6 linked regions of the Homo sapiens genome follow. The protein of the gene in region 1 purifies or fractionates together with the protein of each later gene. This does not show direct contact. Each region holds a gene or a part of one and is shown in the gene's direction. Other genes may lie near its edges.

Region 1 (4,109 bases):
CCCCTACTCCAAGGGTTGCATTACTTTCGTGCTTGACACCCCGACAACCCCGCACCCACCCCCCGACTCATTTTCCCCAAGCCAAGTCGCTCATAGGGGACAATCAAGCCTTAAGAATAGAGCAAAAATAAAGGCCCTGGAAAGTTGGACATGAAGCTTTAACTTCAGGAAAGGAATGGTATTCTATTAATCGTCCAGCTGGTCTGCCCTTAGGGTGTCAGATGTTCTCTGTCGCCCCTGGTGTGCCAGCATTGGCCTGGGTGCCACTGGGTGGCTGATGGCAGAATGTGAATTCACTTGCAAGCGGACATGTTCGTTTCCATGCCCCAAAGCGGGAAGAAGAAGGGCACAAGGAGACTTCGATGGTTCTTTCAGCTCAGACTCGAGCTGTGACTGATTTGCTGTTTGGGGTCACTGGCTTTCTAGCCTCTCCTGGCACCACCCAATTTCGGGGAGCAGCCAGCTCATCTTTCTCCTACGACAATGTCTTCTGTCCCCCATAAACACTGCCCTCATTTTGAGTTTTTCTTTCCTATGTCTGTAGCTTTCTTCTGCCGCTCAGCAAACACTCTGTCCCACTCGTATTCGTCCCTTGGCGCTGGCGTCTGGCCCAGGGGTACACTGTGAAGGAGGGCAACCCTAGATTCTGAGGGCCCTAGCTCGAATCTAGCGCCCCTCTAACTGCAGGGGTGACCTTAGATACATTTATTAACTTCCTCTGTAGACTCAGGGGAACAACTTTGGCACTCCTGGGGTCCCTGGATTAATGAGGTAACTTACGTAGACTCCCTAAACAAGCGTCTGGTTCATTGTAAGCGCCCAAATGCCAGGGGGCATCTGCAGGGATGACCCCATAGTGAATGAAAACTGCCTCTTGGGGATCTCTGGGTTAAACGGCCAGAATAAATCGCAGAATTGAGAGAACCCTCTCCTGCCCCAAACCTCACTGTACTGTAAATCCCATTCATTGCCTCCCGCCGTTTTATCCGTGTTCTCAGACCACCCCCCTATCCCCGCAACCTCCAGTCCCCTAAAGCCTCCTGGGCGGCAAAAGGACGCCCAGAGAGAGGTTCGGCGCCTCAGTTGCCCCGGAGCAGACGTCCAGCCCCGCCGTGTACCCGATTGCGGGGCGGATCGCGGCAAGGCGGCGGCGGCCGGCAGAATAGGCGCGGAGGAAGGCTCAGGCGGGGCAGACTGCGTGGGGGAAGGAGGAGGAGAGAGCAGACGGCGGAGGAGGGCAGAGCAGCCGGGGGGAGGGCGCAGGGGCGGGAGGAGACACATGCGCGCTGCCGCCGCCGCCGCCGCCGCCGCAGTCCTTAGCTTCCCGGGGACAGGAAACCTTCAAGACCGAGCTGCCACGGCCGCCTCCCCGCCCGCCCCCCATTCTACGCGCCTGCCCACACCCTCCTCCCCTCCTTCCAGCGCCTTTCGGTGGAGCACTGCGGCACTCAGCCCGAGCTGCCGTTTTCCCCTCGCGGGGAACGCTGTGACCCCCCCGCAGGAGCGGCGGGGCGGGGTGGGGGGGCCCGGGAGAAGATGGCGACGCCGGGAAGCGAACCCCAACCTTTCGTCCCGGCCCTTTCGGTAGCTACTCTGCACCCACTTCATCATCCCCACCACCACCACCACCACCATCAGCACCACGGAGGAACCGGCGCCCCCGGCGGGGCGGGTGGTGGCGGCGGTGGCAGCGGGGGCTTCAACCTGCCCTTGAACCGGGGTCTGGAGCGCGCGCTTGAGGAGGCGGCCAACTCCGGGGGGCTGAACCTGAGCGCCAGGAAATTGAAGGAATTTCCCCGTACCGCAGCCCCCGGGCACGACCTCTCGGACACGGTGCAGGCAGGTGAGTGAGGGCCGAGGGGCGGGCAGGGGTGTGGGTGCTGTCTGGGTGTCTGTCGTGCGTTCCCTAACGCGGTGGACAGTCGGAGATCTTGTCTTGCTGGGGGAGGGAGGGTCCATCGGCCCGTTGTCTCCCGAAGAAGGGACTCGCGTGGGCGCGGAAGAAGCGGGCCCTGGAGAGGGCACGGGGGCCCTGCCTGGTCCGGCGATGCAGTGCCAGGAGGGCAGGGGTGCGCCGGGCCTCTGCGCCTGAGAGCGAGGGGTCTCCGGCTCTCCACCCTGTGGCTGCCGCGCCAGGGAAGTAACCGCGGGGCTGGGACTTGCAGGCGCGCCGCGTGCGCGCAGTGTAAGTGGGAGGTTTCAGGCGGCTGTGTCGGCTTCCTGGGCCCCGCGCAGGGCTGGGAACTCCAGCGCGGACAGCGGCGTCGGCGCCTCCAACCAGTTCAAGCCGTCTTTGCATCGAGGCGTAGCCCATCCTGGTGGGGAAACCCAGACAAAGGTGGCACGCCCTCGGCCGAGCCAGGGGCATCGGCGCAGTGCCGCGAGCCCCCTCGGCGACATCGCCGAGCGATCGGGCAACTCGGTGCCGCCTGTGAGGTGCCCAAGTTTCCTCTCCCTGCGCTTGTGCGGGAAAAGAGCCGCCGGGCTTGTAGTGAATCCCAGTCGGCTGCCGCTTCGGAAGCGATCGGCCCTCTTCCTTCCGTGCCTTTTGCTCACCGCCCACACAGTTTGGGTCCTACCACCGAGGCTACCTGGTTCTCAGTTACCCAACCGTTGCGGGGGCCCCAGGAAAGGACGGCGTGGCATATTAAAGGCAAAGTAATTAACGTGAGCCTGTTTTCCTGTGTGAGCCCGGCAAGTTGTAACTCGCGCCAATAAGCAGCATAACTTTTTCAAGTTACGTCATGTGTTACATACTTCTAAAACGTCTGCTTTCTCTTTGGTAGTTGGAGTTCCAGGAGCGGGATCTATAAACAGGAAGGAGGGTGGTGGAATAGGATTGGGGCCTTAGGGTCTATACAGAACTGACTTGGTTTCCGGCCATCCGGTTCCGCTCCCTGGGGGAGGGTTTGTGTCATAGCAAGCGCCCAACATTTCCCAGGGCAGTGGGTGCTCCGTTTTGGAGCCGCTGCCCAGACCTCTTGGCTGTCATCGCCTCATGGCCCAGGGTCAGACCCCCTGGGTCTTGGATGGGTTGACTCTCATCACAGGAGCACCCAGTTTAATCTTGTAGTGGGCAAGGGAGCAGGCAGTGGGTTTTTGGAGGCTAGGTTTCCAGTGTCTTTTCCCCCTTTTAATTCAATAAACATTTATCTAGAGCCTTAATGAATATTTAGATACAGTTCTGAGTTCACTGGAGGCAAAGATGGCTCTCCAGGGTCATTAAACTTTGTAATTTGGATTTAGGGATAGTCAGGAATCGGCAAAAAAGAGGGAATTTCCAAAGTTGAGCTGTCAACAGCTGGGGAGTGTCTTTCAATAAGACCTCTTAGTTACATCTTCTCAAGTGGAACTTATTCCAAGAATTGCCTGAATCACTGACTTAAAAAACTACATTAAATTTTACTTCCCTTCTGCTATAGAGTGTACCGTGAGCTAGCTATGCTATGGTTGGCTATATCTGCAGAAAATAGAGCTGGCATGACTAATAATAATAGGTTTGTGTAGTTCAGTAAGGGGGCTTCATAGTTGTTCTACTTCAGTTATGCTAAGGATTATTTACAAAGTTAGGTGAACTTGATGTGTCTGCTGTGTTGGCATTTCTTTGAGAAGACCAGTGCTTTTAGGGATCACATCTTTTAGCTAAGACCTCGCCATGTGAAGTGGATGCTGAAAGTGTTCTTGTTGGCTTGTTTATGGCAAGCTTAAGTTGTGAGTTTTGCAGGTTTTTATTTATGAGCTCACTTGCACATGTTTTATGCTCAGGAAAATCTAACTGGTTAAAATTCAGAGGCTTTATGTTAATTCCTCATCCAAAAATACAGTATTATTTGGGGGAAGAGGAGTGGAGGGATATTCATGTTTGTAGAAACTTAAGTCAACCCCATCAGAAAAGTATTCATTGCAGCTAGTTATTTTACATGAAATTAGAATACCCAAATGTATTAAATATTTGCTTCTGCAAAACGTCTTTGCCTCAGGTCAAAAGCTAGGTGTAAACCACATGTACTCTTTGTTCTAAAGATAAATTTAATTGAGCACAGTTTCTTATTTGAGAGACCAGAAAGCAAAATAAAGAGTTAAAGTTACCTCCGGTGTACACAGTGTTG
Region 2 (3,500 bases), on another chromosome or scaffold:
GCAGTGACCTGAGATTGCGCCACTGCACCCCAGCCTGGCAACAGCAAGACTCCGTCTCAAAAAAAAAAAAAGAAGCCCAGTGGCTCCCTTAATAAAATCACCCCTTAGCCCTCTGTGGTGGGCAGTGGTGGGACAGTCTCCCTGTGGGGAGGGTGGCTGCACTGTCCAGCCCCAACCCTCCCGCTTCGGGACCCCCACTTCCCCTTTAGGGCCTGAGACTCTGACTTTACCTCCCACCGTACTGCTTGGCCATCCAGCAGCTTTATGACACACACAAGAACCCCCAGGGGCTTGTCTGTGCTGTTTCGCTGGCTGCTCCCACAGCCACAGGCCCTAGACCCATCCTCTTGGAGGTCCTTCTAGCGCTGCCTATGTGGAGATTCTTCCCCACTCATCTTGGGGGTTTGGATTTGTTGCATAAAGCAGCTGATGTGTTTCCCACAGGGTCCTGCCAGCTAAGCCAAGGGCCCATGCATTGGCACTGGGGTCTAGCAGAGAGAGGGGAGCAGGATGGCCCGGCCTACCTCAGGCAGCCTAACCTATGAGCCCATCCTGAGTACTCCTGATGGAGATGGGGAGGTGCCCAGACAGACAGCAAGTGGGGCCCAGCCGCCTCATCAGAATCAGGGCCAGGCTCCACCTGGGAACAGGCCCGTAGCCTACAGCCCACGGCCCCTGAGAGCAGGGTCATCACACTCCAATGAGTCATGTGCATTTTGAATTTCAGTTGCTGCCCAGCCCCTTTGCCAGGCCCTAATGTCTTCCAGATCTCTGGTGGAGAATGTGCCCCTGCTCATCAACAGATAGCTGGCTGGGCTGGCTCCTTCCTGCCTGGTGCCTCCCCCGGCTGCCTTTAGCAAGTGCTGACTGCACTGAGTCCACTGGGACCTTTTCCTTTTGGGTTTCGAGGCTCCTCCCACTCACCCCCACCCTAGTGCTGGAAGAAGTGAGTCTGCAGCTGAAGGGTTGCTGGGGAGTCAGTCTTTCCTCTTACTTAGGAGGGGACCAGGCATACACACACTGTCACAGGTCAGCCAGGCCAGTCAGGGACCAGTGACTCACCTTCCTCCTCAGCCTCCTGGCAGCCGGCCAGCCCTACCCCGGCCCTGCCGGGACGAAGGAGGCCACCCACTGTCTAGACAGATAACACTGTGGGTATACTTATCTGCAGGGCAAGCTCATGAGAAAAATTTTTTTCAGGGAATTTTGTTTTGGGGTCTCCTGAGAGTTCCCCTGTGGCCCAGTGTCTTCTGTTTTCTTCTTTCTCCAAAAAGATTTAACATCACTTCTTCCACCTAAATGTCTGCCAAAGTCATTGCTTCCCCAAGAGTCTGCAGCATTAGATCTGCTCTCCCCTTCTAAGCCACGCACCCTTGATCTCTGTTCATGGTGGCGGCCTCCGCATCCTCAGGGCCGAGCAGGGAGTCCGTGGGTCAGCTGGGCTCCCTTCCTCGTGGGCTGATATCACCGCTGCATGTGTGCACAGGCCTCACCCTGCAGACCACAGGCCAGGGCACTGGAGGACACCCACAGAGGCCTGTGCCTTCACTTCCATTTCCTCGTGGAGCACCCCCTCCCAGGGGCTTGGGCTGAGCTGAGGGACAGCTGTCATCCTCATCTGGCCAAGGAGGGAGCCAGGGCTCAGCGATCTGGTGTTGCTACGTCCCAGGGCTCTACGCCCCCATGGTGCAGGAGCAGTCTCTGCATTTGGCCACAGGCCACCTGCTTCCTTGCTCCCCCGCCCCACCGTGGCTTCCTTCCCCTCCTCTGGCTCTTCTTGTTCCCATCTATTCCACCCCTCTCTCCTTTTTCTGACAGGTCCATGGCCAACCTCTCTGTCCTGTTTGGGCAGGTGAGTGGCCGGTAGGGTGGAGGGCCTGGGGTGTGGAGTTTGTGCCGTGTGTGCCGCTGTGGGAGCTGCCTATTGACTGGGTGTGGGCGGGCAGAGGAGCTGGGGAGACCCCAGCCCAGAGCCATGGCCACTCCCTGGAGATGCTGTTGTCACCCCTACTCCTGCCTCCCTGCGGACTTTGGATCCCCTCCCACAGGTGGTCCGGGGGCTGAGTGCAGGTGCCCGGGTCTTTGAGTACATGGCCCTGAACCCCTGCATCCCACTGTCTGGGGGCTGCTGCGTCCCCAAAGAGCAGCTGCGTGGCTCCGTTACATTTCAGAACGTCTGCTTCAGGTCAGCACGGGTGAGCAGGCGTGGGGATGGGTCCCTGGGCCGGGGATGAGGCGAGTGGATTCGGGGGTGGAGGTCTGGACTAATGTCCCCCATAAACAGGCCCTCTCAGAGGGCTACAGGGAGACTTCAGGAGGGACCCGGGCAACAAGGGCTGGGAGCCTGGTCTGACTGGGGGTCTCTCGGCTCCTCCCAGCTACCCCTGCCGCCCCGGCTTCGAGGTGCTGAAAGACTTCACCCTGACGCTGCCCCCTGGCAAGATCGTGGCCCTCGTGGGCCAGTCTGGCGGAGGTAAGGGGAGCCCACCACCTCTTCACCCTCTGACTCTTCTCTAGCAGCCACTCAGAGCAAGGCCGGGAGCAGTGAGCCCCCGGTGGGGTCCCTTCCTCCACTGCCACAAGGGGCCTTCTTTCCTGGGACAATCCCTAGAATCCCTGGCCTCCCTCCCTCTCAACCCAATTCCCCAGGAAAGACCACCGTGGCTTCCCTGCTGGAGCGCTTCTACGACCCCACGGCAGGCGTGGTGATGCTGGATGGGCGGGACCTGCGCACCCTTGACCCCTCCTGGCTCCGGGGCCAGGTTGTCGGCTTCATCAGCCAGGTGCGGGGCCACATGGGCAGCCCTTGGCTCCCACTGCCCGTCCTCCCCTGGGCCCTGCCCCCTTAGTCCTCAGGTGCCTTTTCTTTCTTTCCCACCCTCATCCTTGCTGCTCTCGGGAGACCCTGGCCGTCTTCACATGTCCTCAGCTGTTGTCTGGGTGAGGCATCCCTGTCGTGGGAGCAGCCACAGCTCTGCCTGGTCTCCCAGAGCAGGGACGCTTTGTCCGCATTTACAGCAGTCTACACAGATGGGGAATCCCTCAGATTCTCTGCAAATCCCATAGCATCCAGGTCTAGAGAAGCCTATAGTGGAGGTGCTGAGCTGCAGCCGTTCTCCCTCTGCTTGAGGTGGCACTGCCCAGCGAGGGTCCACCCTTCCCTTTGAGGGCCGTGAATGAAGAGGGCATGCCTGCTGTCCGCCAGGGAGAGTGCCTGTGCAGAAGAAAGGCAAATGCAAGCCCCCAACTCCCAGCGCCCTGCCCTGCCAGCTCCTCCCACTCCCACTCCTGGGGAGGGATTCTGGGCCCTTGGTAGGAAGTCGAACTGTCCTTCCCTTTTGGGGGCCACTCTGCATCCTCACTTCACCTCTGACTTTGAACGTCTGATTCTTCAAGAGATCCTAATCTAATCCACCAGATAGACTGTCCCATTGTGTATGGTGGCCCCTCCAGTTTCTGGGGCAAAGAGAATGTTTCTATGGACTCTGTCTCCATAACCC
Region 3 (3,456 bases), on another chromosome or scaffold:
GGTATATGTAATATTTATGGCTGATTGAGTAGTGATTTTATTTTTTAGGGATCAGATCTGGATAAAATATTTATGAGTGATTAAACTTGAGAAGAAATATTAGAAAATAAGTATTAAGTAGGTACAAAAGTAATTGCGTTTTTTGCCATTACTTTTAATGTCAAAAACCACAGTTACTTTTGCACCAAGCTAATAATAAATATAGGAAATCAACACATACACCTTTTCAACCAAGGCTCATAAAAGGATAATGGGTGACTGAACGATGTCATCTCCAATACTTTGAAGAGAAATCACAAAAAATTACTTATTTTATTTTGAGACGGAGACTTGCTCTGTCACCCAGGCTGGAGTGTAAGTGATCTCGGCTCACTGCAACTTCCGCTTCCCAGGTTCAAGTGATTTTTCTGCCTCAGCCTTCCGAGTAGCTGGGATTATAGGTATCTGATTATAGGCATCAGCACGCTAATTTTTGTATTTTTAGTAGAGACAGGGTTTTATCATGTTGGCCAACCTGGTTTCAAACTCCTGACCTCAAGTGATCCACCCGCCTTGGCCTCCCAAAGGCCATGAGCCACCGTGCCCGGCCACAAAATATTACTTTATAATGGATTAAGACTACTTTGTCTTTAAGTATATATGAAAAAGTGTATTTCTAAGGAAATATTGTACTTATTTAAATCCCACTTGTTTTTGTTTTTCTTTTGTAGCTTTCCTAATAGGATGGTTCTAGGAAGAACACACATAAAAGATGTAGCAGCCAAAAGGAAAATTGAGTTAAACAGTTACTTACAGAGTTTGATGAATGCTTCAACGGATGTAGCAGAGGTAACCTTACTAAATGAGAAGTAATAACATCTTATACCTTTTGTGTTACATAATATTTAAACTAATGAATTGCTTTCTCTTTATTCTTAGTGTGATCTTGTTTGTACTTTCTTCCACCCTTTACTTCGTGATGAGAAAGCTGAAGGGATAGCTAGGTCTGCAGGTGAGATTATTTTTTTTCTCTTTATTGGTAACTCATGATCTGCAAGTCTGTAACTTCTCGATGAATGTGGTAGAATGACAGCAGGCTTACTAGCTGTAGTCTGAGAATGGGAGGAGAGTATTCTTTCTAAGCCAGTCTATTTCTGAATAAATATAACTTTCCTAATAGATGTGATTACTAAAGAAGTATAAATCAATGACCTATCAGGTTGTTTACTCCTTTTTCCCCTCCCTTCTGTCCGCACCACATGTGACAGTCTTGAAAATAAAGCAAAATCCTTTTATTGCAGCTTGAACCACTACAACCAGTAAATAAAGATGAAAATATTTGTATTTTCAGATGCAGGTTCCTTCAGTCCTACTCCAGGCCAAATAGGAGGAGCTGTGAAATTATCCATCTCTTACCGAAATGGTACTCTTTTCATCATGGTGATGCATATCAAAGATCTTGTGAGTGATTACAAAGAATGATGGTTGTAGAGGAAACCCTTACCTTGGTAGGAAGCATTACTATTAAGGGACTGCTTTTCTTTTTAGGTTACTGAAGATGGAGCTGACCCAAATCCATATGTCAAAACATACCTACTTCCAGATAACCACAAAACATCCAAACGTAAAACCAAAATTTCACGAAAAACGAGGAATCCGACATTCAATGAAATGGTAAGTTAAAATCATTTCTAGAAGTTTCCTTGGTTTATTATTTTTTTAATTTTCATTTTTAAGTTCTGACGTGCGTAAGCAGGATGTGCAAGTTTGTTACATAGCTAAACGTACCATTGTGGTCTGCATACCTATCAACCTATCACCTAGGTATTAAGCCCAGCATGCATTAGCTATTTTTCCTAATGCTCTCCCTCCCACCATCCCATCCCCCAACAGGCCCCAGTGTGTGTTGTCCCCTTCTCTGTGTCCATTGTTTTGAGATTTTAAATTTTAAAACATTTTAAGGCCAGGCGCAGTGGCTCATGCCTGTAATCCTAGCAATTTGGGAGGCCGAGGTGGATACATCCCTTGAGCTCAGGAGTTTGAGACCAGCCTGGGCAACATGATGAAATTCCATCTCTACAAAAAAAAAAAAAGAAAAAAATTAGCTAGGCATGGTGGCACGCACCTGTAATCCCAGCTCCTCGGGAGGCTGAGGTCAAAGGATTGCTTGAGCCCAGGAGGTCAAGGCCACAGTGAGTCATGATCATGCCACTGCACTCCAGACTGGGCAACAGAGTGAGAGACCCTGTCCCAAAAAAAAAAAAATTTTAAGTTTTTAGGTATCAGTTGCTGAACTATTTGTTATACAGTGTACACCAATAACAGTCCAATAGTATTTAACAAAATGATATAAAATAGAGCCCTCATAGACCTTAGGAGCCATAATTCAACTACGTTTCCAGTGTGTGAACCCCCCTCTATAATAGTCACAAAAAGTGGTTGTCTAGTCTGTGCTTAATTACTTCCAGACTATTCAGTTTGTCTTAGATCACTCCACCTCTTAGATGATTATTATTATTATATTATTTTATTTATTTTTAGAGGCAGAGTTTCGCTGTTGTTACCCAGGCTAGAGTGCAATAGAGCCATGTTGGCTCACTGCAACCTCCGCCTCCTGAGTTCAAGTGATTCTCCTGCCTCAGCCTCCTGAGTAGCTGGGATTACAGGCATGTGCCACCACGCCTGGCTGATTTTGTATTTTTAGTAGAGACAGGTTTCTCCATGTTGGTCAGGCTAGTTGTAAACTCCCAACCTCAGGTGATCTACCCGCCTCAGCCTCCCAAAGTGCTGGGATTACAGGCGTGAGCCACCATGCCTGGCCTCTAGTTTTTATTTTTTAGCTAATGATTAGTCTTGCTTTGTATCTCTCTATGTCAGACATCACAGGAATGATAGTACAATCCAAGACTCCTGAAACACAAAATGTCCTTCTAAAGTATTCAGACAAAACCTACCGGATGTGTCATAATCAGTGTCACTCATTGTGGTCACTCTTTGGCTAATATTCTCACGTTTTCACTTGAAATGTTCCAAGAAACCAAACAAACTTTAATTTGTGATTTACTGTTCTTTTTTCCTTTGTTGTAGCTTGTATACAGTGGATATAGCAAAGAAACCCTAAGACAGCGAGAACTTCAACTAAGTGTACTCAGTGCAGAATCTCTGCGGGAGAATTTTTTCTTGGGTGGAGTAACCCTGCCTTTGAAAGATTTCAACTTGAGCAAAGAGACGGTTAAATGGTATCAGCTGACTGCGGCAACATACTTGTAAACTAGTGAATGTTTGAGCTTTGGAAGCATGAACAGTTATAAACGTGCATGCATACATGCACACACACACAGACACACACACACACACTTGTTAATTTTGTATAGTATTTTTATACTTGGACAGAACTTATAAAGTTAAATATACTTGCTGCATTTCAACACATCTGTTGGACCAACAGTCACATAACTAACCTTTTTGAATTTTTGG
Region 4 (3,500 bases), on another chromosome or scaffold:
TATAGAAGATGTGAAGAAAACAACACACACTCCAACACTAAAAGCATGCCTCTTCTCTTCTGTGGCTCAGGGGTAGGTTACTTCCACTTTCCCTGAAATCTTGTATGGTTGTTGTTGTTGTTTTCCCCTCTAGAAATGGTTTAAAAATATAGTGATATGATTTGTGTGATTCTCTCTCTCACTGGCCTTGCCTCCCCTTGCCTTAGCATTGCTAACAGGCAGTGAAAGGGATATTAGCTGAGTGGGGAAAAGGAAGTGAAATAATTCAGTTTATGAAATAGGTTCAGCATCAGGCATCCAGATGTGTGAAAAGAGTACATATTCACATGGTGTTTCTGAGTTGGCTTCAGGTTCTGGTTTGGTCCTGGCGGCCTCTGTGAGCTGTGCTGGCCGCAGCCTGGTTGCTTCCCCTCGGGCTTCCAGTTGCTCCCTATGTGAGCCAGAAGGTTGAAGGAGGCGATTGCCGAGGTTGTCTCTGGCGCTAGCTTTCATTTAGTAACGTTTTATGATGCTCCTGTTTTTGCAATTAGAGGCTCATAAGAGGGCTGACTGTTGTCCCACACTCAGGCCTGATAGCATGCATGTCGTCTGTTCACAGGTATTTTAGAATGGACTCTTCTGCAACCCAGTTTCACATAGAGACTCATGAGAACACATCAGGACTTTGGTCAATATGGTACCGCAACCATTTTGACCGTAGTGTTGTATTAAATGATGTGTTTCTTTCCAAGGAGACCAAGCACATGTTAAAGGTACATATAGTATTTTTTCCCCAAGTTTTAGCTTATTTTAAGCTTTGTTTAAGGTCAGATGCTGTGAAATTATTTCTATAAAATAATAAAAAATATTCCAAATGCTATGAAGTTATTATTTATATAAAATTTTATGATTTTTAAAACATGTATTTTTCTTTTAACATTTTCAGAATTACTTTTAGGAGACTTCTCTTTCTCTCTTTTTAAAAAACTGTTTTTAAAAGAGCTCAAAGGGACCAGGATATAGCCTTTCAAAATTATTTGCTCTTACCATTATTCAAAAATATTATGTATATGTATTGTTCTAAAAAGATTAGTAAAAATGAGCCTGGTTCATGATAAAATAGTAGGTTTTTTGCAAAATATCACTTACTGAAATTTCAAGATTACTTTTGTGAAATTTAAAACAGTGTCATCTTAAGCATTATTTGTAACCTATCATTTCTATAAAAATATTCCAACTTTTGATCTGGAAATAACTGAGTAAAATCATACTTTCTGAAGTATAGAAGAATGTTAGCATCATACTTTATAATGATTTTAATCATAATTAGTGTTAGGAAAAGTAATTTCTCTTGCTTCTTTTCTTTTTAGATTCTGAATTTCACTGGCCCTTTATTTCTACCTCCAGGCTGTTGGAATATATTTTCTTTGAAACTTGCTGTTAAAGACATTGCCATAAATCTATTCACCAATGTATTTTTGACTACAAACATAGGTGCCATTTTTGCAATACCTCTACAGATTTATTCAGCACCAACCAAGGTATTTTCTACAATACTATATGTGTGTTACAGTTTTCTTAATTACTGTTGCTTTTTATTAACCTTTAGTGCTTGAGTTTTATTAACTGGGTTAAGCTCACGTTCTTTAAGGCTAAGAAACTGAAGGATATTACCAGGCCAGTCTTGGATGATAAATTGTTCAGACATAAAAATCTTTATTTGGAAAGAGTTTTCTTTTTTATAAAGTAATTTGAAGTTCTTGAATGAAATAAGGCATGACCAATAGATTAATAGATGTCATTTTCATTTATTTCCAAAATTTGTAGAGCAACCAGTATGTGTTTGCTATAGAAAACACAGGTTGGCTTTTAGTACATACTTGCAATGACTTAATAAATTAAATTGTTAAATGCTTTATTTGGATCTCTTCTAAGTGACTCTTAGTTGCTCGTAATCCTTGAATTTGCTTAGTGGGCCAAGTATAAAGCCTGAAAAGATTCACAGTTAAGAAAATGCTTTCTAAAATCTGGGTAAATTATATTTAATTTAGACCGTCTTAAATATGTCTCTTTCTTTAATATTTATTTCTTTTCATTTGGTTATTATTTTTGCTTCTTTTTGCTCCAAGCTATTTTGTATAACTCTGGGTTCTGGTTTTTCTATGCAACATTCATGCAACCATCTTTATTTTTTTTCTCACTTATAGTGTGGATCTTTCATAGTTAGAAATGCCTCATGCTTAACTAGCTGTAAGCGTACAGATAGGAATTCTAAAATTAAACAATGTAAGGTTAATTCCATTTATCCATATTTTGAGCAGGGGTGGTTTCTTAGAAATTTTTTTTCTATTCAAGAGATGCATGTCAGCAGAGTGTGGGAGGAGCAGGCAGGTTTCAGGTATACCTGTAGGAAATGGGAAATTAAATGTCCTGAATAGCTAGGAGTTGTTATAGATTGGCATACTGTTTCCCAGAGGATTAGAGTTCAATTAAAAAAAAACAAAACTTCTGACCACTGAGAATGTCCTGAGACTAATCTAATCTTTTTTTTTTAATTTTTAATTTTTTTTACAGTTAGGGTCTCACTCTGTTGCCCAGGCTTCAGTGCAGCCATGTGATCATAATCTTTATTTAATTCAGATGGCAGTTTGGTGTCTTGTGGGCCCAAGGGTCATTATTGTCATTGATTATTGTGCCTGCAGAAGCCACTCAGTGACCCTCCTAGGGAGAGACAGTTCAGATTTCTCTGAAAATTCCTTAACAATTAGAAAGTAATTTTTGGCTCGTGGTTAAAGGGAAGTTCACTGAGGTGCAGACCAATGTCTGCTTTGAATTTTAGTGCATTAGAATTTTTATGTTTAGTGCTGTGTTTTAAGTTATTCATATATTACTTTTCAATCTAGGAAGGGAGTCTGGGTTTTGAAGTGATAGCACATTGTGGCATGCATTATTTCATGGGAAAATCAAAAGCAGGTAAGTATTTTGCCCTTAGGCTTTCTGTAGATCTCTAGTTTGGGGGATGGGAAATAGTGAGGAAAATTAGCATTTGTCAATGGAATAATTAGTTCTGTAAAGGCATCATATTCTATAGAGAGGATGATCATTAACAGAATGACTTAAAATTGTTAAGAACCCTCCAGAAACACCTGGGGTACTGTAAATAATGCCCCTTTATTATCTAGTAGCTTGTACTTCCGCAAGGGTTTTTTTTTTTTTTTTTCAAATAACATTGTTCGATCATCACAGCACCCATAGGAAAAATTGGAAGATTCTGATTCTTTTATGAAAGAACTGACTAGAAGTTAGTAAAAATAACTTGGAATTGTATTTGAGGACTTAAGTTATAGGAGTGTAAACATCTTGCAGATGGTGCTAGTTGTGATTTGAGACTGAAGGGCCTTAGTGTTGATGTACAAGCTGTTTCTTGTTTTGAGTTTTTTTTTTTGTTTTTTTTGTCTTTTGATTTATAGAGATATTTAGGGAGAGTTTTAAAGTATAGTTTTTTTTTTTTTTTTTAAAGA
Region 5 (3,500 bases), on another chromosome or scaffold:
TGCAGTGGAAATCTTAGGAAGTCTTCTCAATATTTGATTAAAGACACCAGAGCATCACTGCCGGCATCATATTACACAGAATGGAGGTCAGGACAGCTAGGTTGGGCAGACAGTAAAGTATCCGATTGTTCTTACCTTGTTCTAAGTGCTTTCTGAGTATCCTTGAAACAATAAGAAGATTTAGAAGCAAGCTAGCACATATTCTATGGAGCCAGATTTTTTTTTTTTTTTGTAAAGACGAGGTCTTGCTGTGTTGCCCAGGCTTGTAGCGATCCTCCTGCTTCAGCCCCCACAAAGTGCTAGGATTACAGGTATGAGCCATCGTGCCCAGCGTTGAGCCAGATTACTATTACTGTCTGTTTTTAAATAAAGACAATGCATATGTGCTAGGTATCATGATATTCACACTTTATAAAATTTATTTTTAAGATAAAACCTATATGTATAGTACTTAACTCAGAGTTATAAAGACACCATCCCCCAGCCACCCAGTTCTTCTCCATATGTTCTTCTGCACTTGTCTTTTTCATTTAATATGTATCTTAGAGGGCATTCCATAAATATTCATACAAATTTGTCTTCTTCTAATGGATATGCCTGAATTTATTGAACTATTCTCTCATTGGTGGACATTTAAGCTGTTTGTTTTTGTTTTTTATTTTTATTTATTTATTTTTTTTTGAGACAGGATCTTGTTCTGTCGCCCAGGCTGGAGTGCAGAGGCCTGGTCTAGTCTCACTACAACCTCCGCCTCCTGGGTTCAAGGAATCCTCCCACCTCAGCCTCCCTAGTAGCTGGGTCTAAAGGTGTGCACCATCACACCTGGGTCTAAAGGTGTGCACCATCACACCATCATACCTGTATTTAGTAGAGACAGGGTTTCACCATGTTGGCCAGGCTTATTTGTTTATTTTTTATTTTCTCTTTCGCTAATACAAAATGTACTGCATTAATCATCATTGTACATATACACCTTGGGACTTGTAAGGGTATATCTCAAGAAAAAGAATTCCTAGAAGCAAAATAGTTAGATCAAAGGGTATGTAGATTTTTCTTGGTTGGTTGAACATTTTAATAGATATTGCCAAATTTCCTCTGAAGAAGTGGCACCCATTTAAGTTTCCACCAGTAGACATGAGAGTGCCTTTTCAGGAGCACATCTTTTTGCAAGTAGTTTGACTTCTCTCAAGTTCTTCTGTCCTCTGATTTACAACATTAATAGATGTTCTAATCCTAAGAGATAGTGTGGCATGGTGGGGACAATTGAGTTTTACTTTTTATTTATCTAGTAATTGATTAGAATAAAATTCCTGGCCGGCGGCAATGGCTCATGCCTGTAATCTCAGCACTTTGGGAGGCCAAGGTGAGCGGATCACCTGAGGTCAGGAGTTCAAGACCAGCCTGGCCAACATGGTGAAACCCCATCTCTACTAAATACAAAAATTAGTCTGGCGTGGTGGTGGGTGCCTGTAATCCTAGGTACTTGGGAGGCTGAGGCACAAGATCACTTGAACCCAGAAGGCGGAGGTTGCAGTGAGCCGAGATCGTGCCACTGCACTCCAGCCTAGGCGATAGAGCTAAACTCAGTCTCAAAAAAAGCAAAACAAAACAAAACATAGAATACAATTCCTGACTCTTGGGTTTTTCTCATTAATATGCTAGGGAGTGTGAAATTTTGCAAAGATCATAGGATTTGGAATAATGAGCACTGGGTTCAAAAGCTGGCTGTATTACTTCCTAACTGTACTATTCCCTTCCCATGTCTACTTTGTTCTCTCTTTGAGGCTGTTTCCTGATCTATAATACCCATGTAACAAAGTTATTGTGAAGATGAAATTAGATTACATGTGTAAAATCCTTATTTTAGTGCCTTTCAAATAGTTTGCACTTCATAAATGTTGTTCCTCCCCTCCTATAAATGTGACATAAAAGCTAACAAAATTGCCGGGCACGGTGGCTCACACCTGTAATCCCAGCACTTTGGGAGGCCGAGGTGGGCAGATCACGAGGTCAGGAGATCGAGACCATCCTGGCCAACATGGGGAAACCCCGTCTCTACTAAAAATACAAAAAATCAGCCAGGCGTGGTGGCGGGTGCCTGTAGTCGCAGCTACTCGGGAGGCTGAGGCAGGAGAATGGCTTGAACTCGGGAGGCGGAGCTTGCAGTGAGCCGAGATTGCATCACTCCACTCCAGCCTGGGCGACACAGCGAGACTCCGTCTCAAAAAAAAAAAAAAGCTAACAAAATCAACAGTCTCATTCTAGACTTATTGCTTCTTATTTATTTTTTTTTTTTGAGACGGGGTCTCACTCCCATCACCCAGGCAGGAGTGCAGTGGCACAATCACAGCTCATTGTAGCCTCTACTTCCTAGGTTCAAGCCATCCTCCCGCCTGCCTCATCTTTTTACTTTTTGTAGAGATGAGGTCTCACTGTTACCCAAGCTCATCTTGAACTCCTGGGCTCAAGCAATCCTCCTGCCTCAGCCTCCCAAAGTTTTGGAATTACAGGCGTGAATCACTGCACCTGGACTTAATTGCTTCTTCTCAGGATCTTAGCTGCCTTTAGTAGTTGAGGGTTACGTGACCCCTGATCATTGTGAGAGTTAGACATCATCAACGAATCATGTCTTTTTGCAGCCATCATCATCACGGTAGTTCCATGGTTCTGATTTGGGAGATGACTTTATTTAGTGTGTCTGCCCCTTCTTCCTCACAACTATTCAGCTTATTTCTCTGCCTCCATAGACGTCATTGTCCCTGAGAATGGAGAACCAGTAGGCACCAGAGAGATCAAATGCTGCATCCGACAGATCCAGGAACTCATCATCTCCCGACTTAATCAGGCAGTGGCTAATAAGCTGATCAGCTCAGTGGATTACCTGAGGGAAAGCTTCGTCGGAACCCTGGAACGATGTCTGCAGAGCCTGGAGAAGTCTCAGGATGTCTCAGTTCACATCACCAGTAATTATCTCAAACAGGTAGACAAAGAATGATTTTTAAGACATCGTGTCATAGATAGCACATGAAAAATCTGCACAAGTCCACACTTCAAATTAGGCAAGAATTTCCCTTTCAGCTTCTTGCGAATCTTGTTTGAATTTTATTTTGTTTTCCTGTCACATGACCACTGCCTGTGGGAGATGTTGGTGAGCTGTAAAACTGCAGTTAAGTTGATGAATATAGGCCAGGCACAGTGGCTCACGCCTGTAATCCCAGCACTTTGGGAGGCTGAGGTGGGCGGATAACCTGAGGTTGGGAGTTGGAGACCAGCCTGACCAACATGGAGAAATCCCATCTCTACTAAAAATACAAAATTAGCTGGGCGTGGTGGTGCATGCCTGTAATCCCAGCTACTTGGGAGGCTGAGGCAGGAGAATCGCTTGAACCTGGGAGGCAGAGGTTTCGGTGAGCCAAGATCACGCCATTGCACTTCAGCCTGGGGGACAAGAGTGAAACTCTGTCTAAAAAATAAAAAAAAAAATAAAAAAATAAGTTGAT
Region 6 (4,173 bases), on another chromosome or scaffold:
GGGAAGTGCTTGCTTAGAAAACCACACGTGAAAAGTATTTGAACAAGTCTATTCTTTCTTGATAAGTAATGAAGTGTAGAGATTTACTACAATTTTCCTACGTTTTAAACACTTAGTGTTTAGGGCAGTATTTCTGACATCCAGCAAAATGCTGGTTACATAGTAGGCACGCAAAAAACATTTTGTTAAATGAATTAAAATTAATGAATACATATTCAGATAAAAAAAATTCTCCTTTTGCAGTGCATACACCCGTGAAGCTGTCACCTACCTAGCAGCTAATCACGTTTCTCCAATTTCCTGGTGCCAGCATAATCTGTTCACACATCAAATAAGTGTGCCAAGCTAGTTTTTTTTCTTACCCAAACCTATTCCTTCTTGTTTCCTATTTATCAGAATGCAACCACAATCCTCCTACTCACCCGTTCCTCATTTTATTTGACAAATGCTTCCTTTCCCGCCTGTACAGACTGACACTCACTGACGATATTCTGCTTCTACCCATGTTTCCCACAATTGGTCTCAATTTCTGCTGCCACAGCCTCCACTACCTTTTGCTTGGACCAGTGAATACCCTCTGATTTTCCGTTGTCAGTCGCTTCTCATCAATCTATTCTTAATCTTGTTGCTTCGTTGCACCTCTACTCCCTCACCTTCCACCAAACAACCCAGTTAGCGTAGAGATTAGGAGAAGAGATTCTGGCTCTGAGCTTAACATAGTGATTGATCAAGAATTTAACCTCTGGAGCCAAACTGCCTGGCTTTGTCTGCCATTCGAGGACTTTTCCCAACCTCATTTCTCACTTTGTAGTCAACCCAAAACACCTCCCTCCATCTCCCACCTAGCTTGTGTTTCTCACTTAACTTTTAAAGTCCAGCTCACATGTCACTTTACTCACTTCCCAGAATTGTAATCTTCGTTTCGAACTGCTCTCGCACGGCAGCTATACTTCTCAGTACCTGCTTTTGTACCATTATGTGCGTTTTTTCTCTTTTTATAAAAAATCTCTTTCAGGGAACGCATAGTTCTTGAGGTCAGGATATTATTGTTTTATTTTTATATCTCCAGTAAGTCACAGTGTGACTTGCACTGTGGTTGCTCGATAAATGTTAGGTGAATGACATCAATTTACAGAAATAAATCCAACTCTGAGCGTCTCCCCTTGAGGACCGTGTTTTGTTCATCTGCACGCTCTCCAGGTCCTGCACTGCGCCCAGGACCAAGAAGACGCTGGACCCTTACTAGGAGAACCGAGGCAAGAGCCGGCTGGAGCCGCGGGGAACCCGCTCGCCCCGCCCACCCGCCTAGCGCCGGTGAGCCTGCGGCTCCCGCGAAGCGCGGCCCCGCCCCCTCGGCGCCAGGGCGCACGCGCGGAGCTGGAGCCGGCGCGGAGGAGCGGGCGGCCGCGGCTGTGCCCTCTCCTACTCCTCACCGCGCGAGCGCGGGGAACCAGTAGCCGCGGCTGCTTCGGTTGCCGCGGTCGGTGGTCGTTATGGATTCTCCATGGGACGAGTTGGCTCTGGCCTTCTCCCGCACGTCCATGTTTCCCTTTTTTGACATCGCGCACTATCTAGTGTCAGTGATGGCGGTGAAACGTCAGCCGGGTGAGTGCGGGGCGCCGCGGGCCGGACCCCTCAGAGTGCTCCTGACGGCGAGGACCGTCTAAGTCGGGTGGGTCGGGTGGGTCGGGTGGGCGGCTGAGTGGCCGCTAGCCCAGACAGTTCGATGGTAGAGTTGGAGGGGCGCCAAGGGCCGGTTGGTCTGACTTACTGAGTGCAGATGGGGAAACAGCGTGGGGGAGGACGGAGGCTCTAGTACTCCTCAAAGGAGGCGTGACCTGGGGTCCGCGAGGCCGTAGCCTGGGCGAGCAGGGCCGACCTTGCCAACCGCCCGCAGAAGTCCCAGGACTGACAGAAGCTGCCGCAGCGTTTCGGAACCACAGATATCCGCGCCAGCCCAGGGCTTGGGCGGCCTCCTCGCGGTACCGCCACTCGCTCGCAGTGTCGCCACTCGCTCGCAGTGTCGCCACTCGCTCGCAGTGTTTGAAAGTCATGTGAGGAGACAGCAGGTTTCTGACTCAGTCTCTTGGAGTAATAGATGGTTGCGGACTACTCTCCAGTTATGAAAGTTGTACAAGCACTGAAACAAAAAGCCTCCTGTAGCCAGACCAGGATTCCCCTTCACGCAGTGTCCTAACACCCTGCCTAGCATGTGAGAAGCGAGTGCGTTCCCCTTTTCACAGTCACGACGGACACTGTACAAGCAAGAGTTACCTGGCGTAGTTTCACTATCTGCAGAATGGGGATATAGTCTTGAAACAGCATTTTGAGTTCTTTTAGCAATGCGATCAAGGGACAGTAGTTGTATTTTATTGGATTTTACACCAGGGTGCGTTTGCTCTAATACTGCTTTACTTTTGTAGTTATTCTACTGTGCTTTTAGTTGTATGGACCTCTTCTTTCTTTGAGGTCAGACATTTCTTTGCCTACTTTCTTTGTGTTCTTGCTGTCTTTCATCTGCCTTGCCCTACGGATAGTTGATGAGTGAGGTCTGGAGGATGATGCTGTATCTTTCTTATGGACTACTTACTGGTTTTAAAAAATCCTTAGACCTCAGAAATATTTTTCATTTATGTTGAAGTTTGTAGCTCAGTTTAAATCGTTGGTACAAATTTTGACCTGGATGAGGATGGTATTACTGCATTAAAGTAGAACACATTATCTGCATAAGATATTATTTCTTTGATTTGAAAAAAGTAAGTTTTGTTGCTACTACATGTTCAGAATTTGATTAAAAAAATTTTTTTTTGTATAGGCTGAATCAGATGTTCACATTGTGGTCCAGGGACCCATGGGATTCTCTGACACTGCCAGTTTAAAATTACTTTCGTAATAATATGCAGATGTTATCTTTTTCACTCTCATTTTTTCAGAAGTGTACAGTGGAGTTTTCCAGAGGCTACCTGAGTTGTGATACTGTAACAGAAGGAAGTAGATATGAGAATCTAACAGTTTTCTATTTGAAGCCAGACATTTGTTAGAATGTACACAGTGTGATTCTTCTCACTAAATGTTTTTTGTTTTGGAAAAGTTATTTTTCATAAAGAATACATTATCATTATTATTATTATTATTTTTGAGACGGAGTCTCTCTGTCGCCCAGGCTGAAGTGCAGTGGCGCGATCTCGGCTCAGTGCTGCAACCTGTGCCTCCTGGGTTTAAGCGATTCTCCTGCCTCAGCCTCCGGAGTAGCTGGGAGGCGCCTGCCACCAAGTTCGGCTAATTTTTGTATTTTTAGTAGTGGAGACGGGGTTTCGCCATGTTGGCCAGGCTTGAAGAATACATTATTTATGTTAACATTTAATACATTTACTTTTTAAAAAATGAAAACATGAAGAACAATTGTTGCATAGTGGACAGGTCTATGCAGTCCTATCCCCAAAGGCTGAGGAAGCTGAGAGGCTGAGGAATCCAGTTTCTTAGAAAGAAACCTTTAAAAGGGACTTAAGAACAGAAGCCATGTCTTGGGTGGCCCCAAGGAGATGGTGGATCACCCCATTACCCGACCCCCAACCCCCAACCAGAGATGTGTAGGACAGTTGCTTAAGAGCAGGATTTATGGTAAGTGAAATAGCGTCAAGGTTGTTTGACCTAAGGGCAAGATCGGTAAGTGTATACTTTTACACAAGGAACAGTAGATAAAATATAAATCTTAGAGGCAATCCCAGAACTGGGGTTAATCATAAGTCAACATGGCGGATGTTGGAGTTGCTTTAGCCGCCACAACTATTTAAAATTTTCTCAGTTATAATTTCTAAGATGCTAAGTATTGATACTTGTAGCCAACATAAACAAAACCTTTTGGGGTTGTCAAGAAATTTAAGTCCGATTTTTTAAAAGATGTAATTCACATAGAATCTGTTCACCATTTTTAATAAAAAGTTCTGTGTTTTTGGACAGACACATACAGTCATTCAACTACCATCACAATCAAGATACTGAACGGTTTCCTCACCCACCCTAAATTCCTTCCTGCACTTTTGTGTAAGCTGTCCCCTATCCTTGGCAAGCATTAATCTGTTTACTAATTTTTAGGGATGTAGAGGGCTCCTGAGATTCCATAATTTGAGAACCACGTGATTATTGAATACTTATATAGTATCATACAGTACC

Evidence for each region.
Region 2: the proteins of LRCH1 (region 1) and ABCB8 purify together in Homo sapiens (affinity purification with mass spectrometry; one large-scale study listed by BioGRID and IntAct). This does not show direct contact.
Region 3: the proteins of LRCH1 (region 1) and PIK3C2A purify together in Homo sapiens (affinity purification with mass spectrometry; one large-scale study listed by BioGRID and IntAct). This does not show direct contact.
Region 4: the proteins of LRCH1 (region 1) and TMEM131L purify together in Homo sapiens (affinity purification with mass spectrometry; one large-scale study listed by BioGRID and IntAct). This does not show direct contact.
Region 5: the proteins of LRCH1 (region 1) and DSTYK purify together in Homo sapiens (affinity purification with mass spectrometry; one large-scale study listed by BioGRID and IntAct). This does not show direct contact.
Region 6: the proteins of LRCH1 (region 1) and TMEM38B purify together in Homo sapiens (affinity purification with mass spectrometry; one large-scale study listed by BioGRID and IntAct). This does not show direct contact.

What each region holds. Positions count from the first base shown.
Region 1 is NC_000013.11:46,551,861-46,555,969, forward strand, and holds the start of LRCH1 (leucine-rich repeat and calponin homology domain-containing protein 1), read left to right. Parts: upstream 1-1,309; 5' UTR 1,310-1,536; coding exon 1,537-1,843; intron 1,844-4,109. UniProt on the Homo sapiens protein: Acts as a negative regulator of GTPase CDC42 by sequestering CDC42-guanine exchange factor DOCK8. Probably by preventing CDC42 activation, negatively regulates CD4(+) T-cell migration.
Region 2 is NC_000007.14:151,038,450-151,041,949, forward strand, and holds part of ABCB8 (mitochondrial potassium channel ATP-binding subunit), read left to right. Parts: intron 1-1,818; coding exon 1,819-1,852; intron 1,853-2,048; coding exon 2,049-2,185; intron 2,186-2,378; coding exon 2,379-2,473; intron 2,474-2,649; coding exon 2,650-2,783; intron 2,784-3,500. UniProt on the Homo sapiens protein: ATP-binding subunit of the mitochondrial ATP-gated potassium channel (mitoK(ATP)). Together with pore-forming subunit CCDC51/MITOK of the mitoK(ATP) channel, mediates ATP-dependent potassium currents across the mitochondrial inner membrane.
Region 3 is NC_000011.10:17,089,531-17,092,986, reverse strand, and holds part of PIK3C2A (phosphatidylinositol 4-phosphate 3-kinase C2 domain-containing subunit alpha), read left to right. Parts: intron 1-710; coding exon 711-828; intron 829-918; coding exon 919-991; intron 992-1,330; coding exon 1,331-1,440; intron 1,441-1,527; coding exon 1,528-1,653; intron 1,654-3,066; coding exon 3,067-3,249; 3' UTR 3,250-3,456.
Region 4 is NC_000004.12:153,584,860-153,588,359, forward strand, and holds part of TMEM131L (transmembrane protein 131-like isoform 1 precursor), read left to right. Parts: coding exon 1-72; intron 73-598; coding exon 599-752; intron 753-1,349; coding exon 1,350-1,520; intron 1,521-2,882; coding exon 2,883-2,952; intron 2,953-3,500.
Region 5 is NC_000001.11:205,163,203-205,166,702, reverse strand, and holds part of DSTYK (dual serine/threonine and tyrosine protein kinase), read left to right. Parts: intron 1-2,747; coding exon 2,748-2,980; intron 2,981-3,500. UniProt on the Homo sapiens protein: Acts as a positive regulator of ERK phosphorylation downstream of fibroblast growth factor-receptor activation. Involved in the regulation of both caspase-dependent apoptosis and caspase-independent cell death.
Region 6 is NC_000009.12:105,693,168-105,697,340, forward strand, and holds the start of TMEM38B (trimeric intracellular cation channel type B), read left to right. Parts: upstream 1-1,373; 5' UTR 1,374-1,493; coding exon 1,494-1,605; intron 1,606-4,173. UniProt on the Homo sapiens protein: Intracellular monovalent cation channel required for maintenance of rapid intracellular calcium release. Acts as a potassium counter-ion channel that functions in synchronization with calcium release from intracellular stores.